Homo sapiens: one gene and its partner. The protein of the gene in region 1 purifies or fractionates together with the protein of each later gene. This does not show direct contact. Each region holds a gene or a part of one and is shown in the gene's direction. Other genes may lie near its edges.

Evidence for each region. The genes of interacting proteins can lie anywhere in the genome.
Region 2: the proteins of CORO2B (region 1) and ARHGEF25 purify together in Homo sapiens (affinity purification with mass spectrometry; 2 studies listed by BioGRID and IntAct, with this or other methods). This does not show direct contact.

What each region holds. Positions count from the first base shown.
Region 1 is NC_000015.10:68,714,586-68,722,271, forward strand, and holds part of CORO2B (coronin-2B), read left to right. Parts: coding exon 1-78; intron 79-629; coding exon 630-726; intron 727-4,112; coding exon 4,113-4,225; intron 4,226-4,558; coding exon 4,559-4,649; intron 4,650-4,827; coding exon 4,828-4,967; intron 4,968-7,686. UniProt on the Homo sapiens protein: May play a role in the reorganization of neuronal actin structure.
Region 2 is NC_000012.12:57,614,272-57,618,268, forward strand, and holds the end of ARHGEF25 (rho guanine nucleotide exchange factor 25), read left to right. Parts: intron 1-59; coding exon 60-129; intron 130-244; coding exon 245-334; intron 335-417; coding exon 418-510; intron 511-695; coding exon 696-746; intron 747-965; coding exon 966-1,043; intron 1,044-1,240; coding exon 1,241-1,441; intron 1,442-1,565; coding exon 1,566-1,746; intron 1,747-2,012; coding exon 2,013-2,224; intron 2,225-2,512; coding exon 2,513-2,623; 3' UTR 2,624-2,974; downstream 2,975-3,997. UniProt on the Homo sapiens protein: May play a role in actin cytoskeleton reorganization in different tissues since its activation induces formation of actin stress fibers. It works as a guanine nucleotide exchange factor for Rho family of small GTPases.

The sequences.
Region 1 (7,686 bases):
GAGGAAATTGATGGGCTCTCTGGCCTCCTGTTCCCCTTCTATGATGCTGACACCCACATGCTCTACCTGGCTGGAAAGGTAGTAGGAGGTGGGGGAGGGCCCGGGGCAGCCTGTGGGAGAGCCCTACCCTCAATGCACCCCTGCACCTGCCCCACCCCCTGGAGAGTAGCCAGCCTAACCTTCCAAGTTCCTGGGCCTCACCTTTCCCATCCACACCTGCCCTCAAGTCTGACACCCATTCTTACTCAAGTGTCTGCTACCAAGAATTCCTTCAAAGGTGAGCTGGAGCGGGCTTTTACATTGGAATAAAGATCAGAGCCTGCAGTGTAGTCAGTGATGAATGATGGAATTTGAGATACCCGCCAGGAGATCCTTGGTGAATACAGCCTTGTTTGTCAGAAAGGCTGTCTACACACACACACTCACATCAGCCCATCCACCTCCACCTCTCCACCCGCAGTGAGTCCCCTGTGGTGCACCCACTAGGAGCCTAGAAGCCAGGTTTCCTTGGTTTTTTTAACTGCCCATGAGGCACAGGGGAGAGCTGTCTTCAGCTGGCTCCTGGGACCAGGCCCTGCTCTGCCCTCCCTACCTGCCACCTTCCTCAACTCCATCTCTCCTGACCCCAGGGTGATGGAAACATCCGGTACTACGAGATCAGCACTGAGAAGCCCTACCTGAGTTACCTCATGGAGTTCCGCTCCCCAGCCCCGCAGAAAGGCCTAGGTAAGTGGCCCCGAGGCTGCCACAGCTGGTGTGCTCATGGCACGGGAGGACATCTGGCCCATGGGTCACCCCCTCCCTTAAGTGGAAAATCAGACTCAGAAGGCCATAGCACATGGGCAAGTTGGAACAGAACCTGCAAGAGCTGGCCCTGCTGCAGCTGTCACTGCCCACTGGACCGGCGCTGTCACCCCACTGTGCTCACATCCACCATCAGCGGCAGCTTGCCAGCATGTGCTCTGCGTCTGCACTCCTGATCGCAGATGGGGAGCCTGAAGCCCACAGTGGCTATGATGATGGTGGGAAGTGGTCCCGTAACTAGAGGTCAGAGTGGGGTCTAGGCACAAGTCCCTTCCTGAGCCTCTAGGAAGCCGTGACTCCCAGATCCCAGCAGCAGCTCTGTCTGCCTGATAGGGCAGGAAGAAGTTCCAGGTGTTCCCGTGACTGCAGCCCCAAGCTCCCTAGGCTCTCAGGCAGAAACCCAGAGAGGGCTCTGGGATTGACAGGGTGTAGTGAGTGAGACCCCACATTCTCCCACCACTAAAAGTCTTACAACCAATTTTCCTTCCTTTCAACTAACCTGGTAATGCATATGATTCAGCAATTCTATATTTCGGGTCCAAATCACCCAATGAAACACCTATTTTCAGGGACCTCCCGTTCCCACCTCTGCGGGTGATCCTCTTTGGAGCTTGAGTCTAGCTTGCTTTCCCTGTGGGTCTGGTATTATGGACAGGGCCTGAGGGCCAGCTTCAGGAACATCGGGGCTGAAAGGGCCTGAGAGCCCACTCCAGTGACCAACAGCAAAATGGAAACCAAAAGATGTCCGAAGTCCTAATCACCATTCCATCAACTTTACTCTTCCCCAACTCTGTCATCCCCACCTCCTTCACTGTCACTCCTGCATCAAATAGTATAAAAATCAGCCTGGACTTTGGAGTCAGACCTGGGTTTACATTCTGGCTCAGCTGTGCACTTAATCCCTCTAAGTCTCAGTTTCCTCATCTGTAAAATGTGGATAATCAAACCTTCCTTGAATGGCTAATGTAAGGCTTAGAGACCACATGTGCAAGGCACCTGGCAGAGCACTTGACTCCTCCTGCTCCTTCACATAGTTGTTCAACAAACAGTTATTGACCTCCAGCTGTGTACCAGACCCTGCGCGAAGTCCAGTGGCAAATAAAACAGAACATGGCCTTACTCTCATGGAGATCACATTCCACTGAGCAGGAGACAGGCAATAAACAAATAAGAAAAATATTGGATGGGAATGAGTTCTAGGCAGAGAGTCAAATGGTGTGCTAGAACAGAAAGTGACTGGGGGCTACTTCACCCCGGTGGTCAGGGAAGGCCTCTCTGTGATGATGGTATTTTAAGTTGAGCTCTGAAAGATGGGAAGGAGAAAGAGCAGTCCCAGCAGGGGGAATGGTTAGTGCAAAGCCTCTGTGGCCAGAATGAGCCTGGCATGTTCTAGGAGCAGAAGGGAGGTCAGTGTGGCTGAGCGTGGTGTAGACTCTGTGATGTAGCAGGAGATGGGGGGAGGATGTTAGGAGACCATCGGAGAGGGGGGCAGGGGCTAAATCCATGGGATGCATTAGCCTGGGAAAGGAGTTTGCATTTGATAAGGAAATCATTATGGGGAGGGTTCTTTTTCTTGAGTGGGACATGAGACAACATGATGGGATCCGAAATGTTAGTTAAGATTGCTCTGGCAGCCAGGTGTGGTGGCTCAAGCCTGTAATCCTAGCAGTTTGGGAGGCCGAGGCAGGTGGATCACCTGAGGTCAGGAGTTCGAGACCAGTCTGGCCAATATGGTGAAACCCTGTCTCTAAACCCTGTCACCAAAAATACAAAAAGTACCTGGGTGTGGTGATACACCCCTGTAATCCCAGCTACTTGGGAGGCTAAGGCAGGAGAATCGCTTGAACCCGGGAGGCAGAGGTTGCGGTGAGCTAAGATCACACCACTGCACTCCAACCTGGGCAACAGAGCCAGACTCTGTCAAAAAAAAAAAAAAAGATTTCTCTGGCTTCAGTAGAGAGAATGGATTTGGGAGGGGCAGGAGGAAGACAGGGAAACCAGTTAGGAAGAAGTTGCAGACTTTTAGGCAAGAGAGAATAATAGGTGGGGAGAAGGAAGACGGGGAGAACAGTGTGAATCCAGATGTTTAGAAAGTAATGTCAGCAGGACTTGCTAAGGTATCGGATATGGAGGGGTGGAGAGGAAAGAAGCAGGAAGGGCTCAGAATGACTCACTTCATCCTCATCCTCATCCTCCTCACCTGTGACCACTATTGAGCATTTGCTGTGATGTAGGCACTTCTTGTAGACTCAGAAAAGTTAAGCAACTCACCTGAGGCAGGTCTTATCTGCTAAGTAGCAGAAGAAGAACTCAGACCGAATCTGCTGGCTCTTAATCCCATTTGGGAAACCATTTCACCCCTTACCTCCAGCTCCTGGAATTCCTTTATGTGGAAGAGCAGGCTTCCAGCCCAGAGGAGGAGAGGCAGAGCCTTAACTCATATTCACAATACAGGGAAAGAAATGAATGTGGTCTGTGCTCGTCACGGTGCCAGGCAGTTAATGAGTATCTTGGAACATATTCTGCTGATCACCTCAGGTAGGGCCATTGTTGTCCTCCTCGAACCAGCCAAGGAACTGGAAGCTCAGAGAGTTGTAACTTGCCAAAGGACTCCTAGATGGAAAGGGGGCAGAGTGAGGACTCAAACCCCGTTGGTCCACCCCTAGATAGAGCTGTGCTCCTAGCACCACCACACTGCCCCTCATCCCCATGATAGACGTTCAGCAGAGGCAGCTGTTAGGGACATGTGGTAAGTGAACCCACACAGGAAACATGGGCACACATTGTTGGTTCTAGGAGACATAGAACAGAACAGCAATCTTAGGCTGCGTCCAGACCTCTAGGGTGTATGGGGAATGGCCTCTCCCTCCTTTCTCTCTCAGGACTGGAGACACAGGAGGCTTAGGGATGACTGTTCATTTCAGAGGGTAATGGGCTCTGTGGCCCTGCCCCTGCTGTGCTCTGTGACCTTGGGTAACCCCTTGCCCTCTGACCCTCTCTGGACCCTCATCTAGAAAAGGAGTGGGCTAGATTCAAATGTTTCTGCAGTTTCTTCCAATTCTAAAGGGTCCAATTCTAAAGCACGCACTGTGGTGAGGCAGGTCTGGCCCAAGGAGCTTGAGAAGTGACCACCCAGAGACAGAGACTGATTGAAGGCGCCCCGGTCTACCCCCTGCCCTCTGCATGGGCCGTTGCCTCCAAACCTAAGTACATTCCTCAGCCTTTCCCCTGGCCCAGAACATCATGGGGTGATGTCACTGAGACGCAGTTTCTGGGACCCCATGGAGCCACATGTGTGCCTGTTACAGGGGTCATGCCCAAGCACGGGCTGGATGTGTCAGCCTGCGAGGTGTTCCGCTTCTACAAGCTGGTGACTCTCAAGGGCCTGATCGAGCCCATCTCCATGATCGTGCCCCGGAGGGTAAGTGGGGCTGGGCTGGGCTCCAGGAGGGGGGCCTGCATCGCCTCTTAGCCTGCTCACCACTGACCATGACCCTGGAGAAACCCAGGTGAGAGATGTGCTGTGAACTGGGGTCTTCAAACCTAATTTGGGGTGAGGGGCATTCTCAGATGGGGACAGTTGGGTTTGCTCATGAGTGCAGTCAGGTAGTTCCAGGAGGGAGACACAGTGCAAAGGCATAGAGGCAGGAGAGCAGGTAGAGTGACTGGAGATCAGTAAGAAGAGTCTGACTGAAGAGTAGGGGCTTTCCCAGCAGCCCCCCATGTGTCCTCTCTTCTGCTCCTCCCACTGTAGTCAGATTCCTACCAGGAAGACATTTACCCAATGACACCAGGCACGGAGCCAGCACTGACCCCGGATGAATGGCTGGGAGGCATCAACCGAGGTACCACAGCGGGGGGCTCCACAGAGCACAGGCGGCTGCAGCCTTTGCCTTCAGCGCAGCTCACCCCAGTTCTCCTTGTCTGTCCCCCTGTTTGAACTTCCCTCCCACCCAGCCTGCTGGACCATCACCTGACAGTCCATGGGATCGTCAGTGAGAGCGTTTCCCTTGCCTTCTTTAGATCCCGTGCTGATGTCTTTGAAAGAAGGCTATAAGAAGTCCTCAAAAATGGTATTTAAGGCTCCCATCAAAGAAAAGAAGAGTGTTGTGGTCAACGGAATAGATTTATTAGAAAATGTCCCACCCAGGACAGAGAATGAGGTAAGGAATGTAAGTTATTACCTCCACAGGCCCTGGAAGAGCAAGACCTTTACATTTCAATTATGGGCTTCAGGCCTTTAAGCCAGTTCCATTCTGAGACATTTTTCTTTCTGTGACAAATGCCATAAGTAGCCTGATATTGGCTTCTGATGCTTCTGACCCCAATAAATAGAAGCTGGGATGTCTGGAGATATCGGTTCCCCACACCACCCCCACGCCTCAAATTCACTAACCCACAGTTATGCATCTCCTCATGAACTCATTTCAGAACGTTGCTGTCATTTGGAGTTCCAGGAGTTATAAATTCCTGACTAACAGGGGCAAGCCCGGCCTCGTGTATCACAGCCCTGCCTCCCTCGCTGGCGTTGCAGCAGTGCTGGAGTCTGACACTTCCAGTCTTTGTGGAAGAGACTGGGTGTTTATGAAGGTGCTCTCTGTACCACTTGGAATGGGAGCAAGCTCTTTTGGGGCAGCTCGGCTGGGCCTTGTCCATGTCCCCCAGCGGTATTTCGTTCCAGCCCACACCCCCATTCCCTGATGCCAACATGGTTTAGCTCAGCTGGGATTCACAGGATGCCTACTGTGTGCCAGACATAAGGCCTGATACAACTGAAATGGAGATGGCTGCATGACCCCACCTGCATTTGAATCCTGGCTCTGCCATTTCCTGGCTGTGACTGAGCAAGTCTACTGACCTTTATAAGTCCATTTCCTTGTGGTAAAATAGGGATATGGAAAGCTGTGAGCATTAAAGAGATAATTCATAAGTGTCTAGCACTCTTCCTGGCTCATATTAAGTGCTCAGAGAAAAAGGTCACCTGTATTAGCTACCTACTGCTGTGTAACAAATTACCCTAGAACTTAATGGCCTAAACCCACAAATGCTTATTAGCTCACAGTTTCTTTGCATGCCCGTGGCTGAAGGTCTCTCATGAGGGTACAGTTACACTGTCCACTGGGGCTGGAATCACATCTGAAGGCTCAACTTCCAAGTTCACTCATGTGGTTGCTGCTAGGACTCATGTCCTCAGGGGCTATTGGAGTGAGGGCCTCAGTTTCTCCTTGGGCTGTTGGCCAGAGCTTCCCTCAGGTCCCTGCCACGTGGACTCCTCCATAAGGCAGCTCACAACAGGGTATGTGAGCAGAAGAGCAAGAGAGGGCACCCAAGATGGAAGCTACAGTCTTTCTGTCACCTAATCTTGGAAATGGTATCCCACCACTTCTGCCCTATTCTGTTCATTTGAAGCAAGCTATTAGGGCCAGCCCATGCTTGAGGAGAGGGGATAAAATGGGAGCCATCTTAAACTAGACAGTCTATACCACCAACTTATGCTATCACTATTTTTTGTTTTGAGACAGAGTCTCACTCTGTTGCCCAGCCTGGAGCTCAGTGGCACAATCTCAGCTCACTGCAACCTATGCAGGTTCAAGCGATTGTCCTGCCCTAGCCTCCCAAGTAGCTGGGATTACAGGTGTGCACCACCACACCCAGCTAATTTTTGTATTTTTGGTAGAGACAGGGTTTCACCATGTTTGCCAGGCTGGTCTTGAACTCCTGACCTTAGGTGATCCACCTGCCTCGGCCTCCCAAAGTGCTGGGATTACAGATGTGAGCCACCACACCTGGCCCACTAATCACTATTATTAATAAAAATAAGACCCTTCTTGACCTCTGGGACCTCACAGTCTTAAGGGGGAGATTGGCAGGTAACTTGATAATTGCCATAAAATATGCTTGTATGCCATTGTAGAGGGATATTCAGGGCTAGATGAAATGATGTGATAAATGGGATTTGCTTTAAAATAACCCCTGAGGAAAGTGGTGCAGTGTAGGTGGGTGGCAGTAGAGGCGAAGTAAGAATGGTCATACGGGCTGGGCGCCGTAGCTCATGCCTGTAATCCCAGCACGTTGAGAGGCCAAGGCGGGTGGATCACCTGAGGTCAGGAGTTTGAGACCAGCCTGGTCAACATGGTGAAACCCTGTCTCTACTAAAAATACAAAAATTAGCCAGGCGTGGTGGTGCGCGCCTGTAATCCCAGCTGCTCAAGTGGCTGAGGCAGGAGAATCACTTGAACCCAGGAGGCAGAGACTAAAGCTGAGTGATGGGTACTTGGGGGTTCATGGTGCTATACTTTCTATTAATATAGATATATAACATTTTTCATTTAAAAAATTTTTAAGTGTTTTCTTGTATTTATTTATTTATGTTTTAGAGACAGAGTCCTGCCCTGTCTCCCAGACTGCAGTGCTGTGGCACGATCATAGCTCACTATAACCTCAATCTCCGAGGCTCAAGCAATAATCCCACCTTAGACTTCTGAGTAGCTGGAACTAGCGGCGTGTACCACCATACCCAACTAATTTGTTTTTAAACATTTTTGTAGAGACAGGGTCTTACTATATTGCACAGGCTGGTCTTAAACTCCTGGGCTCAAACAGTCCTCCCACTTTCGCCTCCCAATGTGCTGGGATTACAGTCATGAGACACTGCGCCCAGCTATTTTCTTGTTTTTAAAAGAACTCTACTCTTTGAAGATAGAGACACAGGGGTCATTGTGATAGCCCAGGAGGGCAATAACAAGGGCCTGAGCTCAGTTCTGGCACTGGGTCTGGAGAAGGCAGGGTTGAATAGTAGTTAAATCAAGCAATATTTCGCTGTAGACTTGCCTATGGAATCAGAATTGAGAACCTGGAGGAAAAGCTTAAAGGGTCTCAGAG
Region 2 (3,997 bases), on another chromosome or scaffold:
GGGCGAGGTGGGGGTTGTGAAATGTATTTGACCTGCTGCTTCTCTACCAACCCCTCCAGCTATTTCTTGCAAGAGCTACAACGGTGTCTGAAAGATCCTGATTGGCTGGCTCAGCTATTCATCAAACACGTGAGGCTTGAGGGGGCAGGGCCTGGGGCGGGGCTTAGGAATGGGCTGGGATTCTCTGGAGATGCGTCCTCCCTCCTTGCCCACCCTGCTCTCTCTTAAACATTACCCCTGTTAGGAGCGCCGGCTGCATATGTATGTGGTGTACTGTCAGAATAAGCCCAAGTCAGAGCATGTGGTGTCAGAGTTTGGGGACAGCTACTTTGAGGTCAGTAGCTGAGATGTCTTGGTGGGAAGGAGGACAGAACTGGGGCTTTCCAGGCTGCATAACCACCCTGTCCCTGTCCCCAGGAGCTCCGGCAGCAGCTGGGGCACCGCCTGCAGCTGAACGACCTCCTCATCAAACCTGTGCAGCGGATCATGAAATACCAGCTGCTGCTCAAGGTCAGGACCCCCTTTTTCCTGGGGGCACAGCTGGCTGGCACAGCTGTTTCCTCATTCATCTCCCCAGGGTTCTTAGGGCTCCCCCAGACTTCCTGAGGGCCCTCACTGGTGTCCTCAGGGGAGGATGTGAGAGCTTCTAAGGGTGTCCTCGTGACCTCCCTGAGCATTTCTTCTCTCTGTCTTAGGATTTTCTCAAGTATTACAATAGAGCTGGGATGGATACTGCAGACCTAGAGGTGAGGACCCCAGATCTTCCAGGACACACCATGTGCTCCTTATCCTCCTAGTATCTCATGGGTTCCCCCAGCCCCTTGGGTGGTTTACAGCTGTCTGGTTTTTAGGGGGAGGCTGGTTGGGGTTGAGATACCGTCTGAAGAGGCAACTGGCCGAGGAGGCCTCTTTCCCAATAATGACTCTCTTCGCCCAACAATGCGCCTCCCTCACCTGTGTCCCAGCAAGCTGTGGAGGTCATGTGCTTTGTGCCCAAGCGCTGCAACGATATGATGACGCTGGGGAGATTGCGGGGATTTGAGGTACGGAGATAGGGCAAGAAACTGGAGGCCCGATGCTCTTCTGCCCCAGCCCTAGCATTCAGGAGGTCCTTATGGGGAGTTGTCTTCTCCTGGGGCTGACCCCATGGTTGGTTGGGCATGTCAGGCGAGGAAGGGAGGAGCAGAGAATTGTCCTTTTTCTTGTTCTTTTTCCAAGGCCACTATCCTTTTGGTTTCAGGGCAAACTGACTGCTCAGGGGAAGCTCTTGGGCCAGGACACTTTCTGGGTCACCGAGCCTGAGGCTGGAGGGCTGCTGTCTTCCCGAGGTCGAGAGAGGCGCGTCTTCCTCTTTGAGCAAATCATCATCTTCAGTGAAGCCCTGGGAGGAGGAGTGAGAGGTGGAACACAGCCTGGATATGTATACAAGAACAGCATTAAGGTGGGGAGAAGGCCACGAGGGAGGGCTTGGAGAGAGAGAGGGCATGAGGCCTCTGAGAGGATGTCTCAGAGGAGCCAGGGAGGGCCTGAGGAATCTGGGGGCTGTCTCCTATCTGCCAATTCAGGTGAGCTGCCTGGGACTGGAGGGGAACCTCCAAGGTGACCCTTGCCGCTTTGCACTGACCTCCAGAGGGCCAGAGGGTGGGATCCAGCGCTATGTCCTGCAGGCTGCAGACCCTGCTATCAGTCAGGCCTGGATCAAGCATGTGGCTCAGATCTTGGAGAGCCAACGGGACTTCCTCAACGGTGAAGCTCTCATCCTTTCTTCCCGATGTGCTCTCTCAGCCCCTTAACCTCCTGAATCCCTCACTGCCCAGTCTCCAGTACCTACCCTCTGACCATGGCCCATCCCCTTTTCCACTGCTAGCTCAAAATTTGATAGAATCCCCTAAAGCCCTAAGCAATTGACATTGGCTGACAGGGAGGGAGGGCAAAGTGGGAGAATGATACAGGCCCTAGGGAGCAGACCTGTCTCTGCGGTAACCCTCCTTCTGTTCCTCTCTTTGCTCCAGCATTGCAGTCACCCATTGAGTACCAGAGACGGGAGAGCCAGACCAACAGCCTGGGGCGGCCAAGAGGGCCTGGAGTGGGGAGCCCTGGAAGAATTCAGCTTGGAGATCAGGCCCAGGGCAGCACACACACACCCATCAATGGCTCTCTCCCCTCTCTGCTGCTGTCACCCAAAGGGGAGGTGGCCAGAGCCCTCTTGCCACTGGATAAACAGGTATGACGAATAGAGCTCCCTCATTGTAGGGATAAAAAGGGGAGAGCCTCTCTTGTTCTGGGACCCCAAGTTCCCTCCCCATATCATTCCTTCCTTTTATCTGGTCCTTCCTACTTCCCATCCCTTACGCTTCTCCCCTCTATTTTAACTCTGGAGAAGCTGATAGTCTCAGACAGTCTAAGATATCTAGCAAGAGGAGGTGGCTTGGCTAGGGACTTAAACTGAAAAGAGAGAAGTGAGGGTAGATTTCTGGCCTTTTTGATCCTCTGACTTGAATCTTTTCTTCAGGCCCTTGGTGACATCCCCCAGGCTCCCCATGACTCTCCTCCAGTCTCTCCAACTCCAAAAACCCCTCCCTGCCAAGCCAGACTTGCCAAGCTGGATGAAGATGAGCTGTAACTGGTGAAAACCATGGGGGTGGTGCTGACTCAGCCGCCTATTCCCCAAGGAGCTTCAGGGCAGTCCTTCTGGCACTGCTCCAGAATTCCTCCTTCTTGGTGTGTCTGGAGGGTGGGCAAGGCTGGGAGGGATATCAACTTGGAGGAGAACACCTAGACCCAAGGACTTTTTTCTGCCCAAGGAACACAGTTTCCTTCAGCTCCCATCCCTATGCATGCATCATGGTCCCCCCAAAAGGAGGATATGTGGGTGGGTGGGAGGGCTGGGGCAGGGGCCAGATAGAAATTATTGGTTTTGTTTTTTAATTTTGTTTTTCCTGTTTTCTGAGAATAAAGGTTTTGTTATATCACCGAGGCTGCTGTCTTGGCAGAGGGAAGGGGAGGCTGTAGTGGGGGTAGGTGGGGTGAAGTGATATGGAAGAGATCGGTTGGCCCCAGCCATTGGAGGAGGGGGTCTGGTGAAAGGAGAAGGGGACAGGGTGTAAGATAAAAGATGTTGCTATCTTTGTCCCTCAACTGCAGTTGCAGCAGTTGAGGGACAAAGACTGAGGCATGGAACCACTGGAAAGCCCTTAGATTCTTCTTCTTCCCTTTTTTTTTTTGTAGAGTTAGGGTCTCACTATGTAGCCCAGGGTCTTGAACTCCTGGGCTCAAGTGATCCACCAGTCTTGCCCTCCCAAAGTGCTGGGATTGCAGCCATGAGCCGTTGCATCTGGCCAGCCCTAGATTCTTGATGTATCCTCTTTACCCAGCCCTTCTTTTTCCCTACCCACCCTCTGGTCTAGACCCCACCAGAAAGCCCAATGCAGTGTGACTTCTCACCATTCCCCCAACACCCAGATACGAAAGCACAAAATGCCAATGTACCTTTCCTTCTGAGGCTACCATGTTCAGCTGAGGGAGGATGGGAAGGTGGAGAGGATCCTGGGGGCTGAGACCTTTTCCTGGCTCTGGGTCTCCTTATCTTTGCTCTCTGCGAGGTCATAAGCCATGTTCATAGTGAGCAGAAGGGGATTCTTCTTCAAGCCATGGACCCAAGAGCGGACAGCCCAAGGGGATCTTCACCCCTCCCAACTTCTGGGAGAGCCGCTGGAACAGAGCGAGCCAAACATTCACACAGCCATGTCCAGATGCCCTGTCCTGGGTCCTTAATGCATCTCCGAGTCCACTGTATCCATTCGTCCCTTGGGCTCAGTCACGTGCACTTGGGCTTCCTCAACAGACAATAGACTGCTGGGGTGGGAGGGTGAGGAGGAGACCTGGAGCCTCCCTGTGGGCCCGAGGTCCCTTTAGCCGATAATAGGGAGGGATTCCTAAGGGGGGTACAGGATGTAGCGCCCAGATAAGACTTCTGCGGAACAATAGGAGGAACTGA